Homo sapiens: one gene and its partners. Each later gene encodes a partner of the first gene's protein in a complex. Each region holds a gene or a part of one and is shown on either strand. Other genes may lie near its edges.

Region 1 (3,526 bases):
TGGCTTCATAGTATTCCATTATATATATATATAATATTATATATTATATATATTTAAATATTTTATATATTATATATCATGGAATGTGTGTATATATATACACACACATTATATATACACTCTATATATACACTATATACAATGTGTAAACAGTAAATGTTATTGTGTATATATACAAAAATGTTACATATGTGTGTATGTGTGTGTATATGTATATGTATATATGAAATATTTCCTTTATCAAATCAACCACTCATGGACACTTAGGTTGGTTCTATGACTTTGCTACTGTGAATCGTGCAATGATAAGCATACACATGCAGGTGTCTTGTTTATAGTTTCATATGCTTTATTTTTTACTGTAGTAAATGAAAAATATAGCCCCATCAAACCAGAAAATTGAATCTTGCTTGAGGACAATAATTAAAATTCTTCTTAAATCATCAAAGTCCAGGGCTTCCTTCAAATGTAAACTTTTCTTTTTTAAAAAAGTGTGTCCTTGCTATTTTTACATACCATCCGTTATCCCCATAATTACATATCACCCTTAAAATATGGCAAGAATCTCAGAAAAAAACATGGACATTCTTAGTAGCCTCTGTAAAATAATTTATTTTTAGGTGTAATAATTAACAGCAATATATCTATAGTATTAAAATTTACAAATCATTGTTAGAACTGAGCAATTCATAGGTAACCAATAAGGGAGGAAAGGAATTAGAAAGCAACCAAGAAAAACAGCTGTAAGAATATGGAGATATTCTTCATATGCAATAAGGTGGCAAATTTATTCAAAAAAGCATGATAAATATAAAGGATGAGTATATTATAATATACATGTGCACATATTAAATGTTTGAAATCACAAATTATGATTTATTTTCTCAACTAAACTGTTACTATAGAATCATAAAAAGGAAGAGAATCTTGATGATTTTTCCATTAGAGTATACCATGTTAGATCTGGCAGATGACTTTTCACTTTTTATAGTGCTCCAAAAATTGGTACACTTCCCTTTGCCTTTTGGAGACATCACTGACTTTGATATTCAGAGTGGTAAAATCATGATATAAAAATTCTTGCCCATTGAAACTCAATTATCCTATTTACTTGATTTTTAGTCCCTTTCTTCATTTTCCTTATTTAGATATTAATCTCTACTAAACAACCATTACTCTATTTAAAAAATTTAAGTCTACAGCTTGAATAATCACAGCTCTATTAATATTGGATATTAGGACCTCCCCGCAATTTTTACTCCTATATGATATCAGAAATATTAGTATCTTCTTCAAGGGAAATGGGAAAATTATGTGAGTTTTAAAAGGGGTTTATATTTCTTTCTTAAATTAGTATTCAGAGTGCCCCATAATTCTGTTCTCATATAAGCATTTCTCCTGTACAATTTAAAATCTGTTTTTTGAGATTAATTTTTTAAATGAGTCTTCTTAGAACATCTTGCTTTGGAGTTTGGGAGTTAAATCCTTTCATTAAATGTTTAAAAAGAATATATATTCTGATGTCTTGGGATAGAACGTTCTATAAATGGCAGTTAGGTCAAGATGGATGAAAGTATTGTTCATGTCTTCTATATCCCTACTGATTTAAGGCTACAGTTTTTAAAGACTGATAGGGAGGGACTTGACGCCAGAATCCTGAAGGATAAAGTAAGGTAAAAAAGTGTGTAGAAAGACAGTATAGATCAGTGCTTCTCAAACTTTAATGTGCATATGACTCACCTGGGGAATTTATTAAAATTCATATTCTGCATTTTATATCAGAGATAAAAAAGAATTCTGTTTGGGCATAGAAGTTGTTTTCACCTGCCTCTGAGATACTTGCTTCTATACTAGCACAATGGCAGCATTGTTGGTTGTTCACCCCATCCCCATTCTTCTCTTTTTCCTAACAGCAACCCTTTTTTTATTTGGAGTGGCAAAATGTCACTATAAAAGGAAAAAAATCCCTCACCTTCCTAGCCTCCCTTGTAGTTAGGGTAACCATATGACAAAGATCTGGCCAATGGCATTCAAGCAGTATATTTTGCCAGTATAGTCTGCTGGTTATAGTTGGGAAAGCATTTATTTTTCCCATATGATAATCTCACTTTCCTATTTCATCTTTCTTTATTCTAATTAGATGGAAAATATGAGTCACGAGATGACAGGCAAATTATTAGAACAAAAGGATGGCAAAGAGAAAATAGTGGCCTGGGTACTGGGTCACTTCTTTGAGTAGGTGCCCCAGTCTGAACTGCCTTGCTTTTCACTTTTCTGTTCTTTTCTCTCGAGATAAATGAACTCCTCCTGCCTGTTAAAGCCACTGGCAGTCAGAGTTTCCAGTGCTTATAGCCAAATACCATTCTAACTGATGTACTCACCAATAATAATCGTAACTTCCTTTCATATGACACTTCATGGTTTCTTCATCAGCATTATGTGTGACACAAGCAAAAACAAAAACAAAAAAACTGCCAATGTATCTATTTCAAGACATCCCCAGAATTCTGTTATTAAATAGCATTGATGAGGCAGTCAGCCAGAATGTTTAAGCTGTCCTAAATTACTGCCTCCTCTGTGTTTAGGGAGTCTGCTCTTGGTCTTACAAGTCCAAAAGCAGAATATTACAAATTCACATAGAAGTGATCAGGATCTAGAGACTTGATTTATGCCATGCAGATTCACAGGGCATTTGTTTATAAAATTTGTGCTGGAAGATTACTTGTGAACTAGGGCCAAACCCTTAATTATGACTAGGGAAACCCAGAAGATAAAGTTGCATTAAAAGCCTGCTTGATGGAAACAGAAACATACAAAAGATGGCCTTACAGGGAAAAAGTTAAAGTGTTACCACAAATGTATACATGAAATGACCAATAATTTTATTTTATATTTCAAATAACTAGAATTGTACAGAGTTTAATTTTACAGCTTTAGGGCAAGGATAAACTCATTTTTATTTTTGCAGTAAAAGGTATAAATATTGAAAATTATGTAGGTTTAAAACTTTACTATGATATAGACACATTCTCAAATTAATGAATTTTACTGAGCTTTTTATATCAAACTTACTGATATTTAATGCAAAATAATAAATATTGAGATTCTTGGTTGTACATTATAAAATGCATCACAGAGCGATTTATTGATGCAAAGGAACCGTTTTGGCTCATGTAAGTGAAAAGTCTAGGAGTCACATCTTTAGGCATCGCTGGATCCAGGTGCTGAAATGATGTCATCAGGCCCAAAATGTCTCTTTATTGCTTGATTCTGCTTTCCTGAGTTGGTATCAACTAGGAGACTCTCTCTACATGCTCCATGGCAGCTCCAGGCTCACACATACTTAGTATTAAGATTTTCTCCTCTTCTTTAATATAAAGGAAATTCAGCTAGATGATCTTTAGTTCAAAATTCTGTGATATATAAATAACTCGAAATAACTGCTAACAGTTAATGAAACATCTGATTCAGTAAAGATAATGGTTATTTACAATTGAGTATTGCATATTAAAAAGTTCATTAAAGG
Region 2 (3,654 bases), on another chromosome or scaffold:
ACAGAAAAGGCAGCAAAGAAACATTTCGCATGAAAACCCAGCAAACCCGCCCTGACACAACTGGACTCTATATTCTACGACTGCTCCCAACTCACCAGAATGATGAGCCGCACCAGCTGGGTGTAGGTGCGCTCACCACCCTTGCGGGTGATGATGTCCCACTTCTCGGGGGTGCAGACGATGATCTGAGTGGCACTGATCTCTTCTTTGCACAGCTGGTGGTCCCCAGTCAGTTCAGCAACAGTGATGCCATAAGTGGCCAGGCGCTGTGGGAGGAAAACTACATCAGGCAGGAATGCTTGAAGGGGCCTGGACACCATGCTTTCTGTTTGGGCAATTGGAGTGTAGGGCATTGGGAGCAGGTATCAACCCATCAGGTGAATACAAGGCGAATCAGATCTTATGAACATATCTTCCTCAAACAAATCCAAATTTAACTCAGGCAAATAAAGCAGACAAAAGATCTCTGGGGGCCAGGCATGGTGGCTCATGCCTGTAATTCTAGCACTTTCAGAGGCCAACGCAGGCAGAATGCTTGAGCCCAGGAGTTCTAGACCATGGTGAAACCCTGTCTCTACAAAAAATATAAAAATTAGCTAATCTAGTAGTACATGTCTATAATCACAGCTACCAGGGAGGCTGAAGTGGGAGGATCACTTGAACCTGGGAAGTTAAGGCTGCAGTGAGCCATGATTGTGCCATTGCACTCCAGCTTGGGCGACAGCGAGACCCTGTCTCAAAAAAAAAGACCTCTGGGAACTCTGTACACAAGAGGAAGAAATGGCAACTTGTAGATAAGAAGACCTACAATACACCACTAGGTCTATTATCATCCACATCCATTTGATGTTTCATAAACACTTCAATAACACAAATGATACGAACTGCAGAAAATTGCCATGGAGAGGATGAAAGAAAGATGCTAACCCTTGTAAAAGATGGCTCAGGACATTCTTACTTCAGAAACTCTGTACCTGGGTTAAGTTCCATCTTGGAAATGGGGAGAGAAAAATAAAAAATAACAACAATCCCAGGAGGCATGCCAGAGATGCCCTAATACAAGAAGCGGTGAGGTCCAGGCCTGTCCACAACACTTTCATAGGTGCACCCAGTATCCTCTGCAGGAAAGTTCTACTCCCTCACCTTTCCAAAGCTGCCCACCATCTCCTGCACCAAGGAGCGCATGGGGGCAATGTAGATAATCTTGAAGTCATCCACATTGATGGTGCCGTCCATGTTTATGTGTTTCCCAATCTCTCGGAGCATGCACATCAGGGCCACGTTGGTCTTCCCAGCACCCTACGGGAGAGGTCAGGGATGAGAACGCCTATTCACCTGGTTATTCTCACTGCCCTAACTTCCATGGGCTTATTTCCCAAATAGAGAATAGAGCTTGTCCTGGGCACTTTATCCTACTATTTAACCTCTCTTCCATCAAAGGACAAAGAATTAGGGGGTGGGGGTGGAAATAAAAAACAATCTTGCAACGGAAACTCCACACCATATTCTACAAGAAAACAGCAGGCAGGGTGGCGCTTACAGTAGGAGCACACAGCAGCAGATTCTCATCCGTCTCAAGGGCAGCACGGTAGAGCTTACTCTGGATCCGATTCAGTGTTTTGAAGCCCTCAAACCCAGCCTGGGCATACTTTGGCAGCTTTTCCACTGGAAGCAGTTGCTAGAAGAAAAGAAGTGCCATCAATATCATGTTGGCAGCATCCTTGAGCAAAACGTTATTGTGGGATTGCCAGGATTTTGTTCCCTGGCAATCTCTTTGCATAACTTTCCATTAAAGGTCAGTCCAGAGATCAATATTGTCCCCTGGGCTCAAAATCAGAATGGGAAAATTCTGTTGCAGCTTTCAGCCCTGAAATAAACTATATATGAAACAAGGCTACATTTTGGTCAATGGTTGAAATCCAAACCAGGAGGTGAACTGAGCAGAGAACTGAAGAAAGCAATTCACTTACTTCTTCTGAGCCAAAGGGCTTGGGCTTCAGAGCAGGCACATGCACCTCTTCATAGCCCTTACGCTGGCGACGGAAGGATCCATCAGGAAGCTGACAGCGTTTATTGGCCATAAAGTGGCTCCCTTGGGTAAAAACCAGGTCCTCCAAGTCCAGAACCTGCCGTGGAGCCAGTGCCTGGGAATGTGAAAGACAAAAACACAAAGGAAGTAAGCAAGCCGAGCAAGTGAGTTTTCCATCCATCAAGGCCTGGGAAATAAATCGCCCTGGATCCTACCTCTCCACCCTGGTCGAGATCCATGGTTTCCAGATCTGTGTCCATTCGAGACTGACGCACTCGCTCTCTCCGGGACCTTTCCTCCTGTAGTGGACAAAGATAAAAATCACAAAAACAATTCATCAGTATCATAGGTTCTTGTCCTTTTCTGCCCCTGCTTAGCTAATACTTGAGTCACAGGTGCTGACTAGTAAGTCGTGAAACAGAAAGACAGTGCTTTACATGGGGACCACCAGAATGATCAAAGCAAACAAACACTTTTAAAGGGGCAATGCGCAGTACAAGGATGCCACAAATACACGTTCTATAATTAAGTACCAAGGGCTACCCCTGAGGGGTCGAAGGGTGGGTTCCATTAAGCAAGTACATGTGTTCTGTTACTCTATTTTAGTAAACACCATGGATTTACTGTGTAAATAAACAATAAAGGTCCCCACAGTGCTGGTGAAAGATAGCAGCAGGTCACTGGTCTCATGACCAAACCAATGTGGATGTGTTGATTCTAACCTGTATGCACTGATAAACCCCAAAGAATTTAGGAAATTACTTTTTCAACTTCCACTTTTAACATGAATTTAGCTTCATGCTGCAATCTTCTAGCCACCGTTAGCTCAGAAATCAGACAGATAAACCAACCCAGTCCTTACTCGGATCAGATCCTCCTTCTCGGTTTCATGAAGCTGGTAGAGGAACTTGGATAGCTCTGGGTCAGCTTCCATCTTTCCCATAATCCTTTCCTTTTCAGCTTCACTTTGTGCACTGGCCAGCAAGGTACAGTATAAAACTACCCACAACAAAAGGAACAAAGGAAGTGAGGAGGAGGAAATAAGGCAAAAAACCATCCTCAGGGTAGAAAGAAGAAAAATAAAAGAAACAAGCACTTAGGCTGTGAAAACAACAGAATCTCTATGTCACACATGCACACATATGTACTCACTCTGCAGGAAGACCCCACCATATACTCACTCATCATCCTGTGCTGCCGCAACACTTTAATGAAATCAAAGGTGTTGAAACCAAGCAGCAGAACCAGCTGATTTTCACATTCCCGATCATCACTGGCCGTCTGCAGAGAGCAGGTAACACCACCATTAAGGCCAAAGCCATCTGCCACTTCATACGCTGTCCCCATGTGCTAAGATACACTAAATATACAACTATTGTCATCTTGGCCATACCTTCAAAATCTCCAATACTTCATCTGCCTTCTTCTGCGACACGATGGCATCATCATAGAAACGACTGAGCTGCCGCTGCAGCCAAAATGCATCAATATCCCGAGGGTGCAAATCCTTCTTCTTGGAACTCATCAGTTCACCTGAGGCTACGAGCTATAAAAGTAACCAGGCATTTAGCTCACCAGGTCTCTGCCAGCCTCGATCACTTTGCCACCACCCTGCAACCAAGTTC
Region 3 (3,654 bases), on another chromosome or scaffold:
GTTGTGTTGTGAGAGCAGAGGAAAAACACAGTTTGACTTTTTTCCTCACACACATATAAAACATGTACAGCAGCTAAAGATACCAATGAAGAATCCAGTGCCTTCCTTGGCTGCAAACCTTTTTTACCAACACTAAGACAGTTTCCAAGGGCCACAATTACTTTGTTGTCTAATCAACATGACAGAACTTTCATGAACCTAAATATAAAACCAAATTAGGCTAACCAAGAAGCAAGACCAGACTAGGGGACTGCGAAAAGGACAGTCCCACTTTTGGAATGTACTAAAAGGTGGCTTTATTTCTGAAAACGGAGCTCCACTATCAGACCTCCCTAAGTACATGCTGGTGTCCATCCATAAGACCCAGTCTCGCTAGGAAATGCTGCCCTCACACTCGAGTCAGCTCATCTGCTCCGGGCTGTGTCTGCTCGGCAAACTAGACAAGGGCAAGCGATCCCACACCTCTCACACAGAACTTCTAGAAAAGATGGGCCTCTCCAGGTGCGGTGGCTCACACTGGTAATCCCAGCATTTCAGGGGGCCGAGGCAGGTGGATCATGTGAGGTCAGGACTTCAAGACCAGCCTGACCAACATGGTGAAATCCCATCTCTACTAAAAATACAAAAATAAATAAATAAAATAAAAATAAGCCGGGCGCAGTGGCTCACGCCTGTAATCCCAGCACTTTGGGAGGCTGAGGCAGGTGGATCACAAGGTCATGAGTTCAAGACCAGCCTAGCCAAGGTGGTGAAACCCCGTTTCTACTAAAAATACAAAAAGTAGCCCGGCGCAGTGGCGGGTGCCTGTAATCCCAGCTACTTAGGAGTCTGAGGCAGAGAACTGCTTGAACCCGGGAGGCGGAGGTTGCAGTGAGCCGAGATCACGCCACTGCACTCCAGCCTGGGCGACAGAGCGAGACTCCATCTCAAAAAAATAAAAAAATTAAAAAAAATTAAAAATAAAATAAAAATAAAAATAAATTAAAAATAAAAAAATTAGCTAGGCAGGGCAGTGCGCACTGTAATCTCAGCTACTTGAAAGGCTGAGGCAGGAGAATTGCTTGAACCTGGGAGGCAGAGGTTGCAGTGAGCTGAGATCACACCATCGCACTCCAGCCTGGGTGACAAAGCGAGACTCTGTCTCAAAAAAATAAAATAATGGCCTCACAGGATCACTCCACGCTGCAAGGGGAAGGGGTGGCAGTGGGTGGTGGGTGTGGAGAGAGCAGAGGTCAAACCCTCTCTGTCTCCAGGCAGTAATAGGGCCCCTTTCTACAAGACACAAGACAAACCTATATTTTAAAACCTGTGCATGAAAAGCACCTACCTTGGGCCTTGAGAATAGCAGCTTTTCCTCGGCCAGCCCCTGAGCCTTGGTTTTTATTTTTCATGCTCTTTAACATGGGTGCGTTCTTCAGCATGTCAGGCAAAATCAGAAAGCGGATTTTGCTGCCACGGATGTATACCTGCTCCAGCTGTGCCACTCGGCCATCTCTGTATGTGACTGTGATGTTGGACATCTGGAAGGAAATCACCAGCTAATAAGTTAACGGTCAACAGCACCAGCGGTGGGGAGGGCCTTGACTGGTGGGAGGGGGAAGTCCAGAAAAGCAGACTGACATTGTGACAAAGCTGGTGAATTACCCAGCAATCATCGGTACTAACTGTGTACACCAGGGACTGCACTGAGCACTTTACCTAAACAGTCCTCACAACACCTTCAGCGTGGGTATGAGTGCTCCCCCCCTTTTTTTTTTGAGATGGAGTTTCACTCTTGTTGCCCAGGCTGAAGTGCAATGGTGCAATCTCGGCTAACCGTGACCTCTGCCTCCCGGGTTCAAGCGATTCTCCTGCCTCAGCCTCCTGAGTAGCTGGGATTACAGGCATGCGCCACCATGCCCGGCTAATTTTGTATTTTTAGTAGAGGTGGGGTTTCACCAGGTTGGACAGGCTGGTCTCGAACTCCTGACCTCAGGTGATCTGCCCGCTTCAGCCTCCCAAAGTGTTGGGATTACAGGTGTGAGCCACTGCGCCCAGCCGAGTGCTCCCATCTTTACATGTTAAAAAAACCAAAGCAGTTATCCCAGGTCAAACAGCTGGAATGCAGGGAACTCCAGATTCGAACCAGCTGGCCTAGCTTCAGAGCCCTGGCTGTGCTGCACTGCCTGCTGAGCAAAGATGTGAAGAGCTCTTGAAGGTGCTAAACCCTAACGAAAACAGCTTCAAACTGCTGGTCCAAACTGTCTTCCCCTGCACTGCCTGGCACTCAGATTTCAAAGGCACCATGAAGGTCACAAGTATATACCAGATGTGGTTCTGACCCTCCAGAGTGCATACTCTAGAAGGTGAGACAGAACCCTCTAGGTTGAGTGACTAGGGACTGAGAAATGGAGGTGGTACCACAAGGCCTGTAAAAAGGGCCTGAAATTACTGGAGGGTTATGAGGCAAGAGCTTGCACAAGGAAAAGAGCAGGCACTTGGGCAGGAGCCTACAGGATGTGAGGACCAGAGCAGTCGAATAATGACACTGGACGGGGTCGTTACTTCAGATAAAGGAGTCAGTCAAGTTTGTCGATAGAGGAAAGATCAATAGGGTTAAGGCAGCACTCAGGAAAGATAAATGTGGCAACAAGGATAGACTGCAGGATGGACAAATGGGGAGCCTGAAGGTGAGACCAGCTTGGCATGGGAGGGTGATACCAATCTGCCAGCATCAACCTCAACAAGCACCACATTTACAGAAAAAGCAGCTTATTGTATGAACCTTCTGAAGAGAGAGAACTATAATTTATTTAGAATGGGTCAGCCCTTATTGTAGAAAGATGTGCTGTCTCTGCAGATTTCTGTCTGGCTAGCTGCCATCTTATACTCATTCATTCTTTTCCTCAAGTGCTAACTGGCCACCCAGCCTCTGCTTGAACACTCAGAAAAGAACAACTATGGGCCAGGTGTGGTGGCTCATGTCTGTAATATCAACACTTTGGGAGGTCAAGGTGGGAGGATCACTTGAGCCCAGGAGTTTGAGACCAGCCTGGGCAACACAGTGAGACCTCATCTCTACAAAAATTAGCTGGGTGTGGTGGCATGTGCCTGTAGTCCAGCTACTCGGGAAGCTGAGGTGAAAGGATCACTTGGTTCTGGGAGGTCGAGGCTGCAGGGAGCTGTGATGGAGCCACTGCACCCTAGCCTGGGCCACAGAGCAAGATCCTCTCAAAAATAAAACAAACAAAACTATGCTCTGGGGCCGCCCCTGTTGTATATGAGCAGTTTCTAGAGGAATGGTTTCTAGAGCTTCTACCCACTATCCCTGTTCTACCTTCAGGGGCAACAGGGCTCCAGTTTCTCATAAACCTTCTGCTCCAGGCTCCTCACTCCCAGCCTGTTATTAAATTTTCATCCAGTTCCCAAGTCCTTACCAATCCTTTTCTTCCCCTGAAGAATACCATAACCTCTAGTGCCACAAATGAACGCCAGGTTTATGGTCAGACTACCCAAGACAGAAACTGGATACAACTCAGGCTCACCTGAATCTGACTGACAATTAAAATGTGTTTTGGGGCTGGGCGCGGTGGCTCATGCCTGTAATCCCAGCACTTTGGGAGGCCGAGGTGGGTGGATCACCTGAGACCAGTCTGGCAAACACGGTGAAACCCT

The links.
Region 2: LSM8 (region 1) and SNRNP200 share a complex: the UniProt entries of both Homo sapiens proteins name them as parts of the U4/U6-U5 tri-snRNP complex.
Region 3: LSM8 (region 1) and SNRPD3 share a complex: the UniProt entries of both Homo sapiens proteins name them as parts of the U4/U6-U5 tri-snRNP complex.

The regions. Positions count from the first base shown.
Region 1 is NC_000007.14:118,201,102-118,204,627, reverse strand, and holds the end of LSM8 (LSM8 homolog, U6 small nuclear RNA associated), read right to left. Parts: 3' UTR 593-3,526; downstream 1-592. UniProt on the Homo sapiens protein: Plays a role in pre-mRNA splicing as component of the U4/U6-U5 tri-snRNP complex that is involved in spliceosome assembly, and as component of the precatalytic spliceosome (spliceosome B complex).
Region 2 is NC_000002.12:96,295,393-96,299,046, forward strand, and holds part of SNRNP200 (U5 small nuclear ribonucleoprotein 200 kDa helicase), read right to left. Parts: intron 3,576-3,654; coding exon 3,423-3,575; intron 3,311-3,422; coding exon 3,211-3,310; intron 3,029-3,210; coding exon 2,892-3,028; intron 2,329-2,891; coding exon 2,245-2,328; intron 2,145-2,244; coding exon 1,971-2,144; intron 1,679-1,970; coding exon 1,541-1,678; intron 1,300-1,540; coding exon 1,144-1,299; intron 267-1,143; coding exon 96-266; intron 1-95. UniProt on the Homo sapiens protein: Catalyzes the ATP-dependent unwinding of U4/U6 RNA duplices, an essential step in the assembly of a catalytically active spliceosome. Plays a role in pre-mRNA splicing as a core component of precatalytic, catalytic and postcatalytic spliceosomal complexes.
Region 3 is NC_000022.11:24,565,850-24,569,503, reverse strand, and holds part of SNRPD3 (small nuclear ribonucleoprotein Sm D3), read right to left. Parts: intron 1,521-3,654; coding exon 1,328-1,520; intron 1-1,327. UniProt on the Homo sapiens protein: Plays a role in pre-mRNA splicing as a core component of the spliceosomal U1, U2, U4 and U5 small nuclear ribonucleoproteins (snRNPs), the building blocks of the spliceosome.